Homo sapiens: one gene and its partners. The protein of the gene in region 1 interacts with the protein of each later gene in a biochemical or structural test. Each region holds a gene or a part of one and is shown in the gene's direction. Other genes may lie near its edges.

Region 1 (5,410 bases):
CAAATATTAATCTCTTCCCTTCACTATATAATCTTTTTAAAATTTCACCTTTATATGCACTCAGATTCCACCAATTAGAGATTTATTTGCATCTATGAAGATTTTTTTAAATGGCTGGCAGTGTTAAAGGACTAACATTCGCTCATGCCTTTAAAAAAATTAGTTTAATCAGATTGCATTTATCCAAACAACTGGCCAAGATTATTTAAAATGAGAGGAGAACATTTTATAAGTTTTTTTAAATTTTAAGACAGAGTAGATACTTTTCATGAAATTCAGAAGCCTCTAGGAGAAGAGAATAATGGACCCATGTTAATTTATGCAGTAAAACATGGGTGTGTGAGGTTGGTGTGAGGAGGTGGAGAGTGTACTAGATGAATCAATGTGTACACCTGCCCATATCAAAATATTGTGCCTAGGGCTGGCCATACAACCAGATAGGGGAGGAAAATTATTTTCTTTCTTGTTCCTACTTCTAGTATTACCCTTTTTTCTCGAGATCTAGAATTCAGGTCAGTATAACTGTATTAAGGAATGATATCAGCTGCACTAGAGTTAAATAGGTTTTCGAGGTTTGTCTGGAGATATAATCACCACCTAAACCATGTGGAAGGTTATCTTTATGGAAAAATGTCTTCTGGTTTCCAAATAACACACTTCCTAATGAACTTCATGAGGCTACCCTTGAGAGTTTGAGACTGGATCAGATCCAGATGTGTGATTTATCTGTGCTAATTTAAAATTCTAAGCTGATTTTCCCAACCATCTGTGTACTTTTAGGCCATTGCTCCTTAAGGAGTTTTGTGTTTAGGTAAAACAAGCTCCGTATGGGAAAACAATTAGGGGAGTATAGATCCTTATACAATTTAATACATTAAAAAATGAAACCTGATTTTAAACATTATTTTATGTTTTAGGTTTTTATTGCTCTGAATCAAGAGATTCTTATCCCATCTCCCATTCAACCCAGGTTAGGTTACGGTATTCTGCCTCAGGTCTCAGAATTCTGTTACAAATAAGCAGACTCGTAAATCGCGTTTCTTATTTCCTTCAAGGTATTGCGCAGCGATGCACGGCCATCAAGTACCACTTTTCTCAGCCCATCCGCTTGCGAAACATTCCTTTTAATTTAACCAAGACCATACAGCAAGATGAGTGGCACCTGCTTCGTAAGTATTTCCAGGAGAGGTTCAGAGAGGAAATGGTGTCATTCTGAACAAAATTCCCACCACCCCTCTCACATCTGGACAGAAGGATGTTGTTCTTATCCTCTGTGAGCCTCTGGGCCCAATCAGATGTGGTCAGAGACTCAGAGGATCATTTCCCTATGCTGTGGACACAGTTTGCTTAAAAATAAAATGTGTGGAAACCTGGTATAAGGTCTTGTGAGATAGTCTGCCCTGGTGGCATCTGTACACAGCTGCCTACTGAATCTTTTGTTTGCCGAGTTGTTGGGTGTAAGGACCTGCTGTACCCCTTGTCTTGTAAACCAAGGAGATTATACCTTAGGGGCTCTTATTTTTGTTTTGTATATACAATATTTATTTTAGCTACTGTGTTCATCTCCGACCTTTGTATTTCTGCTAAAATACCTTTATGAGTGTATGTCATAATTTTCTCAGAGGGTGTCTACATCTCAATGAAAGGAACTATTCTTTTTCACTGTCAGGAAAATGTGAAACTCTAGAAAGCATCATGCAGTGTGAAACTAAAGAGGGCTGATATTTACCTAAAAACTGTTGATTTAAGCTGCCTGATGATAGATAGCTCCCCGAAACGAAAAACTACTGTGAATTTTTTTGGTCTTTGCCCCCATCAGAGGTTGACATTGTCATTTTCCAATGAAATAAGTAACAAGGACTTCAGGATCTTGTTTGGTGGCCAAAGCCACTGTAGAAAACTAATCAGAGTCTCTCATTCTGTAAGTAAATCTCTCTGCGGATTAAAAGGCTCTGTTCTGAATCTCAAACACATAAATGGAAGCTCTTATGATATTGCCAGAGCAGTGGTCTAATATACATATTATGGCAGGCAACTTTAAGACTTAATCATCTTTCCAGAGAGCCATGTAGTTACTGGCTCAGGTCAGGGGAGAAAAGATCATCATAGGAGCCTGAAAAAGAACCTTAGCTCTTTAATAGTTTGTACCTTGTGATTGCCCAGCAAGGCAGTATTTGAAGATTCTTCTTTTAATCCTTTTTGGAGTTCTCATGGAAAGATGCTTTTAGCAGTCTCATGCATGTCTATTTCTAAGAAAGTCACACTTGGTGATCTGTAGCACATTTACTATATAAGCTTAACATGACTGGTACTAATGCAAATCCCATGTGGATTATATCTGAACCTTGTGCCTTTTCAGAGTCACAGAAAATAGACTATCACTCAAACCATAGGAAATTTGGGAGGCTGTAAGATAATGGTGACTGAACCATACTACATTTCCCCTGCTCAGATGTGGCTGTCTCAAAAACTACTTATACCCTTAACATTAAACTCAGCGTCTTTAAATTATCACTGCTCCTGGCCCCTTATTCATTGGTGTCCACATTTCTTCTTCTAGGCAGAAATACTCTCTTTTAATTTGGATGCTCTGAGTGGGAAATGAGAAATCCCTCTTTAAAAAAGGGATGGTCTCTCTGTGGCTAAGGTGCTAAGAGCAAGACTGGAAGCTACTGTAATCCATCCTCCATGAAGCCGCCCCTAAGCTGCCCAGGAGCCACACAAACACACAATAAAGTGATGGCTGCATGGGCACTTTCACTTTAGCAGAGCAGCCCACACTTCGAACAGTGTGATCTGCACCTTGTCTTGGCCCCATGTGTACACAGGTGTGGATGATCCACGTGCATTTGCCCAGACCTGTTACCTGGCCTTGGGGGCAGCAGATGTATGCTTGGGATGTGTTGTTTTAAGAAGGGTGATTGAAATTTAGCGAACAATTTTTAAAGTTAGTTTTGTTAAAAAAAATCCTTTGAGATGGAGCTGCAAGGTAAATAGAAAAGATTCAAAAGCATTTTTTAAAAAAAGAAGGAAGAAAATAGAAAAAGTAAAATAGCTGGAAGGTAGGCAAGGTGAGTGCTGGTTTAGCAGTTGGAGGCAACTTGTGTCCAGGTACACGTAGTCAGCCTACCTCTTGGTTTTGTCAGGCATGTGGGGAAAGAGCTGGATTTCTGGCTCAGTGATCACAGTTGTGTTTTTGCAATAGACCAAACTAGACAGTTGGGCCACTGTATAGTGGAGATTATGTAGTGGAGACTCATCCTATTGGACTAGTACTTCCTTCACCTGGGTAAATGGATGCCCAGGTTGTGGGATCTATGCTTTAGGGGAGAAGGCATTTCTGAGCAGATGTTTCAGAGGAAAGGGTGTTTATGAGCACATGTATCCTGTGTGCACTTTACACCACTGTTCCACTCACCACAATTGCCTTCGCTTTCTCAAATTGTTTTTGAAAATAGGCAGGAGTAGATGTAAATGAAGAAGTAAATAATTGGCATCTGTGGTGATCAGATAAAACCCTATTTCACAATAGCTTTTTTAGGCTCTTTCTCCAAAGCTAGATTAAGTACAGCCACTACCAGGGTAGTAACCTACATTTCTTTTTTTTCCCCTTTTAAAATTTCAATAGTTTTTGGGGTACAGGTGGTTTTTGGTTAACCTACATTTCTATTGTTCTGTTAAGGCTAACAGATATTTCTCAGACCCACCTCACTCTTTGTTTAAGTCATTTGACATCTGTTACTCAGGTCTATCCTGGGCTTGTCCTCTAGTCTATTCTCCACTTAGTGTGGACTTCTCCACGGACTCAGAGACGGTATAGTCTGACCCTCCATTGGTTACACCCCATCAGTCCTCTTATGGAATACCTGGGAAGAGTATTCCCTATGCCTCCTTGTCCTGTGGGCTCTAAGCCTGTCCATGTAACTTACTAATTTTCACAATGTATACAAAGCCCTAATTCTCTAATTCTTAATGACTTTCCTGAATTCTGATTGTGAATGTCTGTGTCTGTTTTGAGATTAGATTTAAGAAGAATCACTGCTGGCTTCCTCGGCATGGCCGTAGCCGTCCTTCTCTGCGGCTGCATTGTGGCCACAGTCAGTTTCTTCTGGGAGGAGAGCTTGACCCAGCACGTGGCTGGACTCCTGTTCCTCATGACAGGTAGGCTGCATGCCTCAGGCCGTCTGTCCCAGCCAAGGTGAAGGCTGCTCTGCATGCGGCTAGCTAGTGTCGCTTTGTTATCTCCCTGTTAATTTTGTTTTCACTGTTAGAAAAGCAACCAGAAGGTCATTTTGGCTTTGCTGGAAAATACAGAATTTAAGGAAAACAACAGTGTGAGAAATGCATCCTCTATATCCCCATTGTGGCCTGTTAGTAGGTTGGATGGAAGTGTCTTGGGTTTAATCTCTATATGAGCCCAGTCTGTTTTTTTGCTGTACTTTCTTTTTTCTTTTTTGTTTTTTTGAGATGGAGTCTCACTCTGTCACCCAGGCTGGAGTGTAGTGGTGCGATCTTGCCCCACTGCAACCTCTGTCTCCTGGGTTCAAGTGATTCTCCTGCCTCAGCCTCCTGAGTAGCTGGGACTACAGGCATGTGCCACCACACCTGGCTAATTTTTGTATTTTTAGTAGGGTTTCACCATGTTGGCCAGGCTGGTCTCGAACTCCTGACCTCAGGTGATCTGCCTGCCTCAGCCTCCCAAAGTGCTGGGATTACAGGCAAGAGCCACCACACCCCACCTTCTGTTCCTTCTTTCATACTGTGCCCCAAACCCTGGCCTGGACTCTTGGCAAACATGGACCATTGCTTATGAGGTGCCCTCAAAGACAGAGGGGGATAGATCAGCACAACCCATGCCCCGCTGGATGTCAATTCAAAGCATGCTTTAGTGATGGTGTCATTTTTACATACACAACACTCATTCATTTTAGTCCACAGATATCTTTTGAGGACTTACTATGTACGAGGCACTGCTGTGAGTGCTAAAGACACACAATGAATAAGGCAGGCAAAATTCTTGTTCATTTTTATTGTGGAGAGACATAAACAATGATTTGTGGTAGTGATAAAAGCTGTGAAGAAAAGAAACAGGGTGAAACAGGGACTCAGGGAAGATCTTGCTGAGGTGGCGATTTCGCAGCTAATTCGTGAGAAGCAGCCGGTGGTAGGAAGAGCGTAGCAGACTGGGGAAACCGCCAGTGCCAAACCTGAGAGAAGCGGCCAGTGGGGCTGGAGGGAGTGAGGGACAGGATAGTATCACATGAGGTGGGGGAAGTGGGCAGTGGCCAAAGCGTCAGGGTTTTGTTGGTCATGGTGGAGAGCTTGGATTTGAAGCTAAGGGTGACAAACGCCACTAGAAGGTTTGAAGCAAAGGAGTGACTTGATTTTTTTTTTTTTTTTTTTTTTTTTT
Region 2 (4,254 bases), on another chromosome or scaffold:
CTGGGATTACAGGCGTGAGCCACCGCGCCCAGCCAATCTTAATCTTTTTTAGCAGAGAATTGCACTTCACAAAGAAAGGAAAGAAAATGTTGCACAGAACCCCCTTATATATAACAGAGGGATGAAGCTGCTCTGAAGTTGTGCTAGATCACCTCTCCCTGCTCTCTGTCCCTGGTGGTGTTCCTGGAATCACTTCTTCCCCCAGCATTTTGATATTCTCTGCAAAGTTGTTAGGGAGGGTGACAATACCTCAAATTTGGGCTGTACACATTTACAAAATCCATTCACTATGTCACCCCAGCAGGTCCCCAGCATGCCCTGTGGGGCAGGCAGGGTGTCAGGCATTCCACCACCACTGAATAGACCTCAGTCTCAGGTTATCTGACTTCAGGATGTTCCATTTCCCTTCCCTCCTCTCCCCCAACCCTAGGCGCTACCAGTCTAACTGGGCTGGGCTTCCCTAGGTGAGCAGCAGGCCATGAGACAGGCTGACAGTACATCTGACCCTGACACCCAGGTTGCCCCCATCCTTGCCATCCTCACTCACATTTAGTGACACACTATGCCAGGTACTAGGCTACGCTCTTTATATTTCTTACCTTCCCTTAATCCTCATAATAACCTTGTGAGATACTAAGAATCAGTATTGCCAGTTTTAGATGAAGAAATTGAGGCCCAGAGAGGTTAAGGAACTTGCCCAAGGACACAAAACCAGGAGGTAGTAGAGCTGGATCCTGCAGCCAGGGCTCTTGGCTATGCTATCAAGACTCCACAGCAGGGGGTCTCCTTCATGTTGAAAATGACTCCTCCCTGACATGTTGCACTGAGATTTTCTAGAAATTGGACTCATATTCTTTACAGAGGCAGCTTGGGATGATAGAATGAATGGATTTGGAGATGTATTCCCACTTACTAGCTCTGTCTGAGCCTCAGTGACCTCAAGTGTAAAGAGGGAATAATGTGAAGACCGATTCAGATGACAGATGCTATGTGCCTCGTTACCCCTAAAGGGGAGGAAGATTCCTTATGGAGAAGGTATTATCTTTTTTTTTTTTTTTTTTTTGAGATGGAGTCTTGCTCTGTTGCCCAGGCTGGAGTGCAGTGGTACGATCTCGGGTCACTGCAAGCTCCGCCTCCTGGGTTCACGCCATTCTCCTGCCTCAGCCTCCTGAGTAGCTGGGACTACAGGCACCCGCCACCACACCCAGCTAATTTTTTGTATTTTTTTAGTAGAGATGGGGTTTCACCACATTAGCCAGGATGGTCTCGATCTCCTGACCTCATGATCTGCCCACCTCAGCCTCCCAAAGTGCTGGGATTACAGGCGTGAGCCACCATGCCCAACCGGTATTATCTTTTGAAGGCCTCACTGGCAGGATGGCTCCAGGGCAGGGCTGTGGAGGGTTTTATCTCTTCTTCCTTCAACAACATGGATGGATCCTATCTACCTGGTCCCTACTCACCCCCAGCACAGGGATTTCCAGCTCACCCAGCTCTGAAGGGTGGGTCACCTGGGAGTGGAAGGTGCAGAGTGGGAGCCACAGGCTGCCCCAGGCGGTCCAGGGGAACCAGGTGGGAAAGAGAGACTGGAGATGGGGCCAGGGTCTTAGGCCCTAAGGAAAACCTTCCTCTCCAGGTTGAGGCTGGAGTATGGGGTGGGGGGCAGAGGCGGGGTGTGGGTGCAGGGACTGCCTCAATGCAGTCCATCCTGCCCATACTGAGCTCAGGAATGGGGAGGGAGGCTGTGCTGACATGCTTCCTAGGGTTGGGGGAATGAGGCCTCTTTGCTGAGGAGCAGACTGAAATGTGGTGAGGCTTCTGGAACCTCACTCACTGGAAGAGGAAGCCAGCTGGACCTTGCCTGCAGGGTGCAGCTGGGTCTGCCCTGGCTAGGTGTTGAGGGCCCAGGCGGGAGAGGGCTGTGGGTAAGCAGTGGCAATGCTTTTTCTGTGCTGTGAGCCCAAAACGTTTTTCTGCTCTCAGGGAGCTGGAGGAGGGGGTGATAGAAGTGAGGTGGTGCATTCTCTTCCCTGTGCTCTGACTGCCTGGGCAATCTTTAGACAGTCACTCAGACACACTCTCAGCTTCCACCAAAGCGATGTGGGAGTACAGGGGTCCCCCAAGGCAGCCACGGGCCAAGTGAGCAGCTACTTCTAGGCTGTGTCACCCTAGAGTCTCTGCCCAGCACCCTCTGAATGACTCCTTCAAGATCCCCCACCCTAATCAAACCAAGACGGAATTGCCCCCCAATACAAATCAAGCCAAGCTGTTTTTCAAGAAAGTAATTGTAGCTAAACCTGAAACCTGAACCTGAAAACCCAGCTACCAGGTCACCTGTTTTGTCCTGAGGGCTGACCTAGGTCCAGGTTCAGCAAACTTATGCCAAGGGAGGTATTTCAGATGTCAAATCACTGGTCAGAGTGCAACTGAAAGCATCTTGCAGTCAAAGGCGAGGTGACCCACTCCCACCTCTCCCCGCCCAGGTACCCCCACCCCCACTCTGCGTCTTATGCAGGCCTTGGGCAGTCAAGGCCTGGCGGAGCCCCACCCTGCACAGCTGCAAATATTTATAGCCATGTCCCTTTTCCAGCCCTGTCGAGGGTTCTGCTGTGCTTGCTCCCTAGCTCTGTGAACACCCTGCTGAGAATTCAAATCTGGGCCATCAAGAAGTTCAGGAACAAGTCTCCCAAAAAAACTGAAATTGTACTGCTCTAATGTTAAAGTCACCTTTTGCATTTCTCTGGCTAGGAGTGAGGGGAACTGGGAAGAATGAATTCCTGACACACCTTTCTTTGGGTTTTTTTTGGCTTTTGCAGTGCCTGCATCTACCTACAGCCCGTCCCCAGGGGCCAATTACAGTCCCACTCCCTACACCCCCTCCCCTGCCCCTGCCTACACCCCCTCCCCTGCCCCTGCCTACACCCCCTCACCTGTCCCCACCTACACTCCATCCCCAGCACCAGCCTATACCCCCTCACCTGCCCCCAACTATAACCCTGCACCCTCGGTGGCCTACAGCGGGGGCCCTGCGGAGCCTGCCAGCCGTCCACCCTGGGTGACAGATGATAGCTTCTCCCAGAAGTTTGCCCCGGGCAAGAGCACCACCTCCATCAGCAAGCAGACCCTGCCCCGGGGAGGCCCAGCCTACACCCCAGCGGGTCCTCAGGTGCCACCACTTGCCAGGGGGACCGTCCAGAGGGCTGAGCGATTCCCAGCCAGCAGCCGGACTCCACTCTGCGGTCACTGCAACAATGTCATCCGGTATGGTCCAGCTGTGCCCCTGCACTGGGGCACTGGAAGGGCGTGTGTGTGGGGTGCTTGCCCACAGTCTGAGCCCTGGTTGGGAGAGATGGGGGTAGGAGGCAGGTGTAGGGAGAAAGCCTCGGGTCCTTCTGGCTTGCCATCTGGTCTTACCTCTCTGAGCCTTAGCTGCCATACCTGTGTGACACCCACTCTCCCAGGGAGCTGGGAGGAATGGCATGAGGTATGTGGGTGAAGCTCCAGCAGGATGCCTGGTGCCAGGAACTCCCCCTTGGGCTAAGGTTGAGGTCTGGGAATCACCAGGCTTGTCAGTAGGTTTACAGGGCATTTTGTTAGACAGTGTTGGTTTTGACCCAGTTTTCCTTTAGGGTTGTTTCTGGGTCTTTCCACAGACAGGCCTGGGCTGCTCAGGGGGTTGGTGGGCATCTGCCAGACTAAAATGAAAACAAGTGATTTCATACTTAGAAGCCATGGACCATGGGTGCTGTTGTTTGAATACAGTATGTTTGTGTGCATGTGTGGTGTGAGCTTATATACGTGAAAAATACACTTTTATTTAAAACTAAAGTAATACATACTCATTAGTGAAGAATTGGAAAACACAGAAAAGTAAAAATTAGAATATAAAAAAATGTCTTCATAGTCCCACTGTTCTGACTGCTAACCTGGAACTAGACAATACAAGTTTGTATCCTGGTCTACCACTTACTAGCCCTATGGCCTTAAACAAGTTGTTCAAACTCTGTGTGCCTCAATTCCCCTATCTAAAAATGGGTATTATAATAGTACCTAGTGCGTAGGATTGTTGTGAGAATTAAGCAAGTTAATAAATGCAAAAGTCTTCTTGAATAGAGCCTGACACAGAGTAATCACTTAATAAATGTTAGCCATCAGCATCATCATTATTGCATTTCTTACTATCATTATCAGTGGTCAACTGAATTCTATAATATGTTTACCCAGTCCCCTATTGGTAGATGTTTGAGTTGCTTC
Region 3 (4,254 bases), on another chromosome or scaffold:
AGCCATGTGACCCTGGGCAAGTTACTCAGCCTCTCCTGACCTCAGCTTCTTCATCTGTGAACTGGGAGTTAGAACAAATGACCACAAAGTTCTGTTCCGTTTTCATCATCTGTAACTCTCTAAGACAGCGCTGTCCAGCAGGACTTCCTGCCGTGGTGAAATGTTCTCTGACTGCACTGTCTCATACGGGAGCCACTGGCCGCATATGGCTAGTGAGCATGTGAAGTATGGCTGGTTTCTTGTCTTAATTTATTTAAATTTAAGTAGCCACATATAACTAGTGGCTACCATACTAGACAGTGCAGCTCCACGATACAGAAGAAACTATATTCGATAGAGGAAAATGTAACAAGATCTCAGCGTGGCAGTTCATGGATGTCACAGGCAAATCATGCCAACTAGGAATAATATAAATTCTCCTGAACGCACAACAACAACAGTCCTGTTTCCTTTGAGGAGGCAAGAGTCCTATGAAGCAGAACCATCCGCAGAAGTGAGACAGAAGGAAAAAAGCTTTCAGAAGGGATGGGCTGTGCATCTGCATGAGCTTGCCTGGCAGAGCCTGGTTCAGTAATGAAACCACCAGAGGAGCTGGACACATTTCCCTGTCACCCTTCTAAAGCAGCGGGGAAGGGAGCAAAGTTTTCAGCAGTTTCCAGATCCACCCTGCCTCCTATCCCTTTTCCCCAAAACCATGTGACAGTGTCTAGGCCAGATGCGGTCAGGGGTGGTCAGTGGGCCCTGGGTGTACTCAAATCCCGCTGACAACCTATGCAGCTGAGGTTCCAGGGAAACATACAGCCCCCAGCTGCCAGGCCCCTACAGTCAGTAGTGTTTGCTCTAATAAAATATTAACCCAGTTATTAATATCTCCTCCTTCCCCATGATGAAGGAGTTTATCCGAGAACAATCCGGCACAAAGCTACCTGACCCAGAAGTCATCCAGTTCTGTGTCTCCATCTTCAAATGCTCCAGGCTCCTGCTCACCTGACGGCGTTGATCAGCAGCTCTTAGATGACTTCCACAGGGTGACCAAAGGGGGCTCCACCGAGGACGCCAGCCAGTACTACTGTGACAAGGTGAGCGAGCGCAGGCAGCCGGGTGATCCACACACCCAGGGCTTCCCGGCCTCTTGTGGGCAGCTGAGTAGCTCTAACTAAATGAAAATATCTTATCACCAACTGCTGGAGAGAGATGTGATGCAAATGACCACTTTCAAACCGTTTTCCAGAATGATAATGGTGACAGCTACTTAGTCTTGATCCGTATCACACCAGATGAAGATGGAAAATTTGGATTTAATCTTAAGGTATGTTGTGTATTTATAAAGGAAGTTTTGTGCTGGGAAGCAATCTTTCAATGAGTTTTTAATTTGCATTACAAATGTGCTGCATTCCTGAGCTACATAAGGAAGTTGGTTCAACCCTCAGAATTGAGAGTTGGGGGTTTTTTTTGTTTTTGTTTGGTTTGAGATATTTGGGGTTTTTTTTGTTTTTTTTTAAAAACTCACTTTATCGCCCAAACCTAGAGTGCAGTGGCACGATCGCAGCTCACTGCAGCGCTGACCTCCCCAGGCTCAGGTGATCCTCCCACCTCAGCTGGGACTATAGGGATGCACCACCATACCCAGCTAATTTTTTTCATATTTTTTGTAGAGATGGGGTTTCACCATGTTGTCCAAGCTGGTCTCAAACACCTGGCAATCTACTCACTTTGGCCTCCCAAAGTGCCGGGATTACAGGCGTGAACCACCGCACCCAGCCTAGAATTGAGAGGTTTTTTTTAATGTGGCCTTAACAGCTGCCGAAGGCCAAGTGCCTGCTCTGTGCCTGGCATTGGCTATCCACTAGATTCATAGCACCTTCTTAAGTTCTGATAACAAGTGGTAAGGTCAGTATTTTTAAACCCATTTTGCAAATGAATACTGAGGTTCCCAGAAATGAGGGCACACAGTTGGCAAACAGATCTACCCACTTCAGGAATGCTATTAAGAGAACCCCTCAGCATTGCTAAAGCTGATAAGAGAAAAACAATTCAAGTTCAACCTGCAGGGCCACCACTCTCCTCCAGGCACCTTTAAGCAGGATCTGCAAACTAAACCCACAGGCCAAATCCCATCTGTTTCTGTAACTAGTTTTTTTGGTAACAGCCACAGCCATTTGTTTACTGGTGGGTTAATGACTGCAGAGTTGAGCAGTTGAATCAGAGCCCTCACTCCCACAAAGCCTCTCTGGCCCTTTACAGAAAACGTTTACTCATCCCTACTCTAGGACAAAGTGAGGGCAGGTGGTCGCCTACCCCCCAGCTGCCATCATGCACAGCCTCATCTGCCCCAGCAGCTGTGTTGAGGACCAGCGCTCACAGGCCAGATGCGCTCACAGGGTGTGCCCCCTTCCCAGGCCTCGCTCGCCTCTGCTGAAAGCCCCTATATATATATATATAAAGCCCATATATATATATATTAAAGCCCATATATATATATAAAGCCCATATATATATATATATATATATTTTTTTTTTTTTTTTAATTATTATAAGTTCTAGGGTACATGTGCACAACGTGCAGGTTTGTTCTAGCAGCACTCGAAGACATGCTGTGGAGTCCCTCTCTGGGGGCATCTGCGTTTTTAAGGAGGAGCTTCTCTCTGAGTGTATCTGTTAGTTCATGGACTGTGGGGATGGCAGAGGGAGGCTTCTGAACAGAGTCCTGGTCAGCCCGCTGGATCCAGAGGGGTCAGGAATTTGTTCCATATTTCTGAAATGACGTGTGATTCGAATCAGTCATAGTGAAGTTTGAAGCCTCCCTGTACCAAAGACTCACATTTATTGGTACCTCCATGTTGTTGATGCTGTGAGCTACTCGTTTTTTTGTTTGTTTGTTTGTTTAACTTAAAAAACTTTGTTTTGTTTTTATTTTAAAATGTTTACAGGGAGGAGTGGATCAAAAGATGCCTCTTGTGGTATCAAGGATAAACCCAGAGTCACCTGTAAGTAAATACATTCCATGTTATTCCTCGTGTTTGTTTGTTTCCCCCTAATTCTAACAGGTTTCTGTTTCTGAGTCCTGTTTCTTTTTTTGCCAGAGCAAAGAATGTGCTTAGATATACATCACCATGTTTTCTATAACCTTGCGGCTCAGTGTGGTCTTTGAAGCCATAGCACCCATGTTACCTGGGACCTCATTAGAAATGCAGCATCTCTGGCCTCAGCTTAGGCCTGCTGAACCGGAATCTGCATTTTTAACAAGAGCCTTGAGTGGTTAGTGTGCATTCAATTTTGAGAAGTCCTTTTCAAGAGAAGGAAACTTAGGCAGTCTGCTGTTCTGCTCACTCTAAGTGGGCACGTGGGCCCTGTGCCTCTTCTCACCATCTTTCCACCAGTGCCCCTTTTGTCATCTGTGTAGGCCTCCTAAGAAGAGCATTTGCTTTGTTTTTCTTTCAAATTTATTTTATTGTTTTTAGGCCAGGCATAGTGGCTCACACCTGTAATCCCAGCACTTTGGGAGGCCGAGGAGGGTGAATCACTTGAGGCCAGGAGTTTGAGACCAACCTGCCTGGCCAACAGGGTGAAACCCATCTCTACAAAAAATACAAAAATTATCTGGGTGTGGTGGCACACAGGTGTGATCCCAGCTACTCAGGAGGCTGAGGCAGGAGAATTCCTTGAACCCAGGAGGCAGAGGTTGCAGTGAGCTGAGATCACGCCGCTGTACTCCAGCCTGAGCGACAGAGTGAGACTCTGTCTCAAAAATAAAATAAATTTATTTTATTGTTTTTAAAATAATATCAAGTAATTTTTTCGTTTAATTTTTTTATTGTGCATACTCAAGGTGTACAACATGATGTCTTGTTATACATATAGTACTGCAGTCAAACAAATTAACATGTTCATCACTTTCCATAGTTAACCTATTTTTCTTTTTTAAGAGACAGGGTCTCGCTCTTGCTCTGTCACCCAGGCTGGAATGCAGTGGTATGATCACTGCAGCCTCAAACTAGGCTCAAGCGATCCTCCTGCCTCTGCCTCCCAAGTCGCTGAGACCACAGGTGTGTCCCACCTCACCTGGCTCCATAGTTACCTTTTAATCATCTGCTTTTTTAAAGCAGTAGGAGTCACTGTGCCTCCTTACAGTGAACCACGTTGGGATTTTACTCTGAGGTAGTCCTTAAGCTCTTGTCATTTAACTTTTGTTACTGTTTACAGTTTCTGTAAATTCAGAAGGCTTTCTTTCCTGTGCTGTTCAATTCATTGCTT
Region 4 (3,588 bases), on another chromosome or scaffold:
TGAATTACTGCAACAGCACCATGCAGGGATAACTCGCCGATTGGCCTTCCACCTGCCAGGCTGCACATGCTCACCAGCCCAGGGCATGGCCCCTCCCAGAACCTGGTCCTTGATCCAGCCTCATGCCCTCCACTGAAATATGTTGGGAACACCCCACTCTTTCCCCTATATTCATGACATGTTCATTCCCCGTGAAATGTGTATTCTTTACCTCTGTCATCCATTCTTAATTCCAACTTCTATGTGAGCTGAATATAGAACTTGGAATTAACTTCATTAACTTGCATGTTCACATTGGTAACGAGCTTCATAATATTGTTATCATAGGGAAAGGCAAATTGGGGAAATTGACTGGTTCCCAGGACTTCATTTGGGTCTTCCTTGTCTCCATTGGATAAACCAACTTAAATAATATATCTTTTGTTTTCCTACCAACTCGTATATCTATAGAGTTTCTGCATCTCTTTTTAAATCAGTAAAGTCCCAGAATGGGCTTTCCACTAGATCAGCAATATGGACACTTTCCCATTCTGACATAATATAATATATCTGCTTGCTGGGCTCTAAGCACATGAAATAATTTTTTCGAGTGAAAACTTGACCAACAAAAATGCTCGATTGACTCTCTTGAATCTTTCTAATTCTATCCTTATTTGCTAGGGAGCGTTCTCCATCACCACTGACCGGGAAAGTCAATCAGCTGGAATTAATTCTTCGACAACTCCAGACCGACCTTCGGAAGGTAATCAATTGGAAGAGCATAATCAGAACTGTTTCTCTTATAAAATCAGCCCCTTATAACTACTACAGATAAATTGAAAAGACTCAGGAAAGAAAACTGCCTTACACAAAAACCAATGATAAATACCAACAGATGCTCCTGAGGTCTCACTCCATCTGCTGACCTGCAGCTGATGTATTTCATTTTGTGGGATGCAGGGATCTCAATGGATATGAGTAAATGAGGATGAGCCCTTGGTGTGGCAAATCTTCAGTGTGTAGTAGAAGCATGGTGGGCCAGCATTTTTTAGTTCAGTGAGTTATCAGTTGCGCCAACTCTGTATGAGATGACCTCAGAGGAGTCCATTGCTGCCAGAAAGCCTGGTCTCTATGAGTCCTGTCCTCTGTCTTGAATCAGCTTCACAGCCCTTAGAACTTCTGCTGTACACATCAACCTGCACATGGTCTGTCCTCAAAAGAAATTAAATTCTGTATCCCACAAATACTTGGCTGAGCTCTGTTCCATCAGCCCTGTGCTGGAGAGCCAGTTGGCTGTCCAGGGAAACGGAATGGGGTGCGGTAGCAAGCGGGAGGGCATCACAGGAAGGTTTTTGTTGTGATGGTTTGGTTTGGTTTGGCTTATGAAGAAGGGAGAAATTGTAGCTGGTGAGAATGCTGAGGAAAGGATTCAGTTGGGAGGGAAATTATGATGAGGGTGAAGAGCAAGTGGGTGGAGTTCTGATCTAGTCACAAGGAGGGAGCTGGCCTTGGATAGGAGTAGGGACAGCTCATACATAGTTACCAGAGTGGAGCAGAGTATGTGTGCACATGTGTGTGTTCATATATGCACATGTTCATTCACATACACAGGGTCCAGACAGAGATGTTGGCAAATTTCTCTGATTGTTTCTTTTCTTTCTAGTCATGAGCTAAGAGTGGTGGGAGTATAAGAGTTTTGTGGATAGCGGATATGGGTGCACCACAGCGTGTAAACCAACCGGGTTTAGGAGACTTGCCCAAAAAAAGCTAAAGCACGTTTGAATTTGGAGCATAAATTAAAGCGATACCTGTTTTCCTGGTCGTGTGTTTTTTCCCCAGCTTGGGTGACCAGCTGTCCCAGTTTGCCCGGGATGGAGAAGTTTTCTAGGATGTGGAAGTTTCCATATTAGAACCGGCAAAGTCCCATGCAAGCTGGGATGGCTGGTCACCCTATCTCCAGCTGCAAGTGTAGAACCGTTGGAGAGTTGAATTTAGCCAATATTAAAGTTTAGACGGGAAATCAAGACGAGAGAGAGAGAGAGAGACAAGGACCCTGGGGCGTGTACAGGGCATGAATAAACCAAAGAACCTGGAGTCCAGGCTGGTTGAAGAGAAATAATGTCACTGCTGGGGAATGGCTGGGTTGGAGGTGTTGGTGGACAGTGAAAATAAGAGTAAGATTGATAAGATTGATGGAGTCTATCATTACTGGAGGAGTGGATACTGGAGAAATTATTTTTAAAAGACTGGAGGTGGTGGTCAAGAAGTAGGAACTTGAAACTTTTAGGAAGAGGTGCAGTCATTGACAATAGCATGGTATAGGATGTGGTCATGGGAGTGGGGGTTGAGGAGGGTGGGGTTTGAAGATCACTGAGAGAAAGCGATGGAGAGGCTGAACGGCCAGAGTGTCAGATGGAATATCTCAGTGGATTCGAAATCATCAACACAGATGACAGGAGTGGGATGGGGAGAAAAGAGCAAACCAGGTTCTAGAATCTTCCCGTAATGATGGTTGGAACTGGGGATACAGTAGATAATTGCAGCCAGGAGGGGTAGCAGGTCTCATGACCTAATGGCACGTTTTTTAGAGGAGCTGGAATTGTAGGAAGTAGTGGAGATCTGGCCTGAACAATAGAGGATGCACTGTCTGCCTGCCCGACCCCCATAGTGAGCTGCTGGGGACGGTCTCCTCGGGAGGGAGCCAGGATTCACTTAGAGCACGAAGACGAAAGGAATTTCAGGAGAGACTGAGCGTGCACAAGGTCTTCTTGGCAGAATCCAAGTTCATGGATCACAATAAAAGGTTTGCAGGGATGTGGAGAGGTGGGCAGCCGAGTCGCAGCAGAGATGTGCTGAGCTGTGGGACTCAGACTGTCTTGGGACTGAGAGTCGTGGTGAGGAATGTCCGGGGAGAGTCAGTATCCAGGGTGGGCTGCAGCTGCTTCTTAGAGTGAAGTGAGTCTATCCAGGGTGGGCTGCAGTTGCTCCTTACAGCAAAGTGAGTGGTCAGCTCTGATTCAGGCCTCCTCTGAGGACCAGTGTCTTTTGGGCCAGTGACCAGGCAGGTGGTATTGAGGAGGGCCTTGGAAGGGCTCAGGAAACGAGGAAGCCTTGAGGGCAGGACCAGATATGCCAAGGGTGGGGGCGTCCACTCACCTCACTCAATGCTCCTGCACAGTGCTGGGGGTGGCATGTGGTGGCTGTAGTGGTTGAGTTAGATCCCGTTACAGAAATACCGATTATTACAATCTGACAGTGACCCCTCTATTCATTTAGGGCAAGGCATCCCTTTCAGCAGGGGGGGAACTGAAACTGCTGCTATACATTTTTTTATTGCTACATGTTGGAAACTCCAGATGTGATTCTTCTGAAAGTCTTGATTATTTTTACACAGTTTTTAATAGCAGATTTTAAGGGTCATTATGGAAATATAGTATAGCAGGAAAGCTTGATGGAATGAAAGACCTAAGTACATATTTTATTATAAACATATGTAACAGCTCTGCTAATTCCAATTTTCTACTTAGAAAGTTTTGTGCATTTGTCAAAAGGGTATTACCTTTAACCTCCCTGTAGTCTCCCTTTTTTGGATAGAGGGTAATATAAACT

Evidence for each region. Proteins that work in one complex are often made in the same cells at the same time.
Region 2: the proteins of TMEM178A (region 1) and LDB3 interact in a test that uses a peptide from one of them, tested with the Homo sapiens proteins (one large-scale study listed by IntAct).
Region 3: the proteins of TMEM178A (region 1) and PTPN3 interact in a test that uses a peptide from one of them, tested with the Homo sapiens proteins (one large-scale study listed by IntAct).
Region 4: the proteins of TMEM178A (region 1) and SIPA1L2 interact in a test that uses a peptide from one of them, tested with the Homo sapiens proteins (one large-scale study listed by IntAct).

The regions. Positions count from the first base shown.
Region 1 is NC_000002.12:39,703,026-39,708,435, forward strand, and holds part of TMEM178A (transmembrane protein 178A isoform 1 precursor), read left to right. Parts: intron 1-1,055; coding exon 1,056-1,169; intron 1,170-4,023; coding exon 4,024-4,161; intron 4,162-5,410. UniProt on the Homo sapiens protein: Acts as a negative regulator of osteoclast differentiation in basal and inflammatory conditions by regulating TNFSF11-induced Ca (2+) fluxes, thereby controlling the induction of NFATC1.
Region 2 is NC_000010.11:86,713,511-86,717,764, forward strand, and holds part of LDB3 (LIM domain-binding protein 3), read left to right. Parts: intron 1-2,816; coding exon 2,817-3,261; intron 3,262-4,254. UniProt on the Homo sapiens protein: May function as an adapter in striated muscle to couple protein kinase C-mediated signaling via its LIM domains to the cytoskeleton.
Region 3 is NC_000009.12:109,407,054-109,411,307, reverse strand, and holds part of PTPN3 (tyrosine-protein phosphatase non-receptor type 3), read left to right. Parts: intron 1-892; coding exon 893-1,079; intron 1,080-1,231; coding exon 1,232-1,309; intron 1,310-2,930; coding exon 2,931-2,987; intron 2,988-4,254.
Region 4 is NC_000001.11:232,399,546-232,403,133, reverse strand, and holds part of SIPA1L2 (signal-induced proliferation-associated 1-like protein 2), read left to right. Parts: intron 1-660; coding exon 661-742; intron 743-3,588.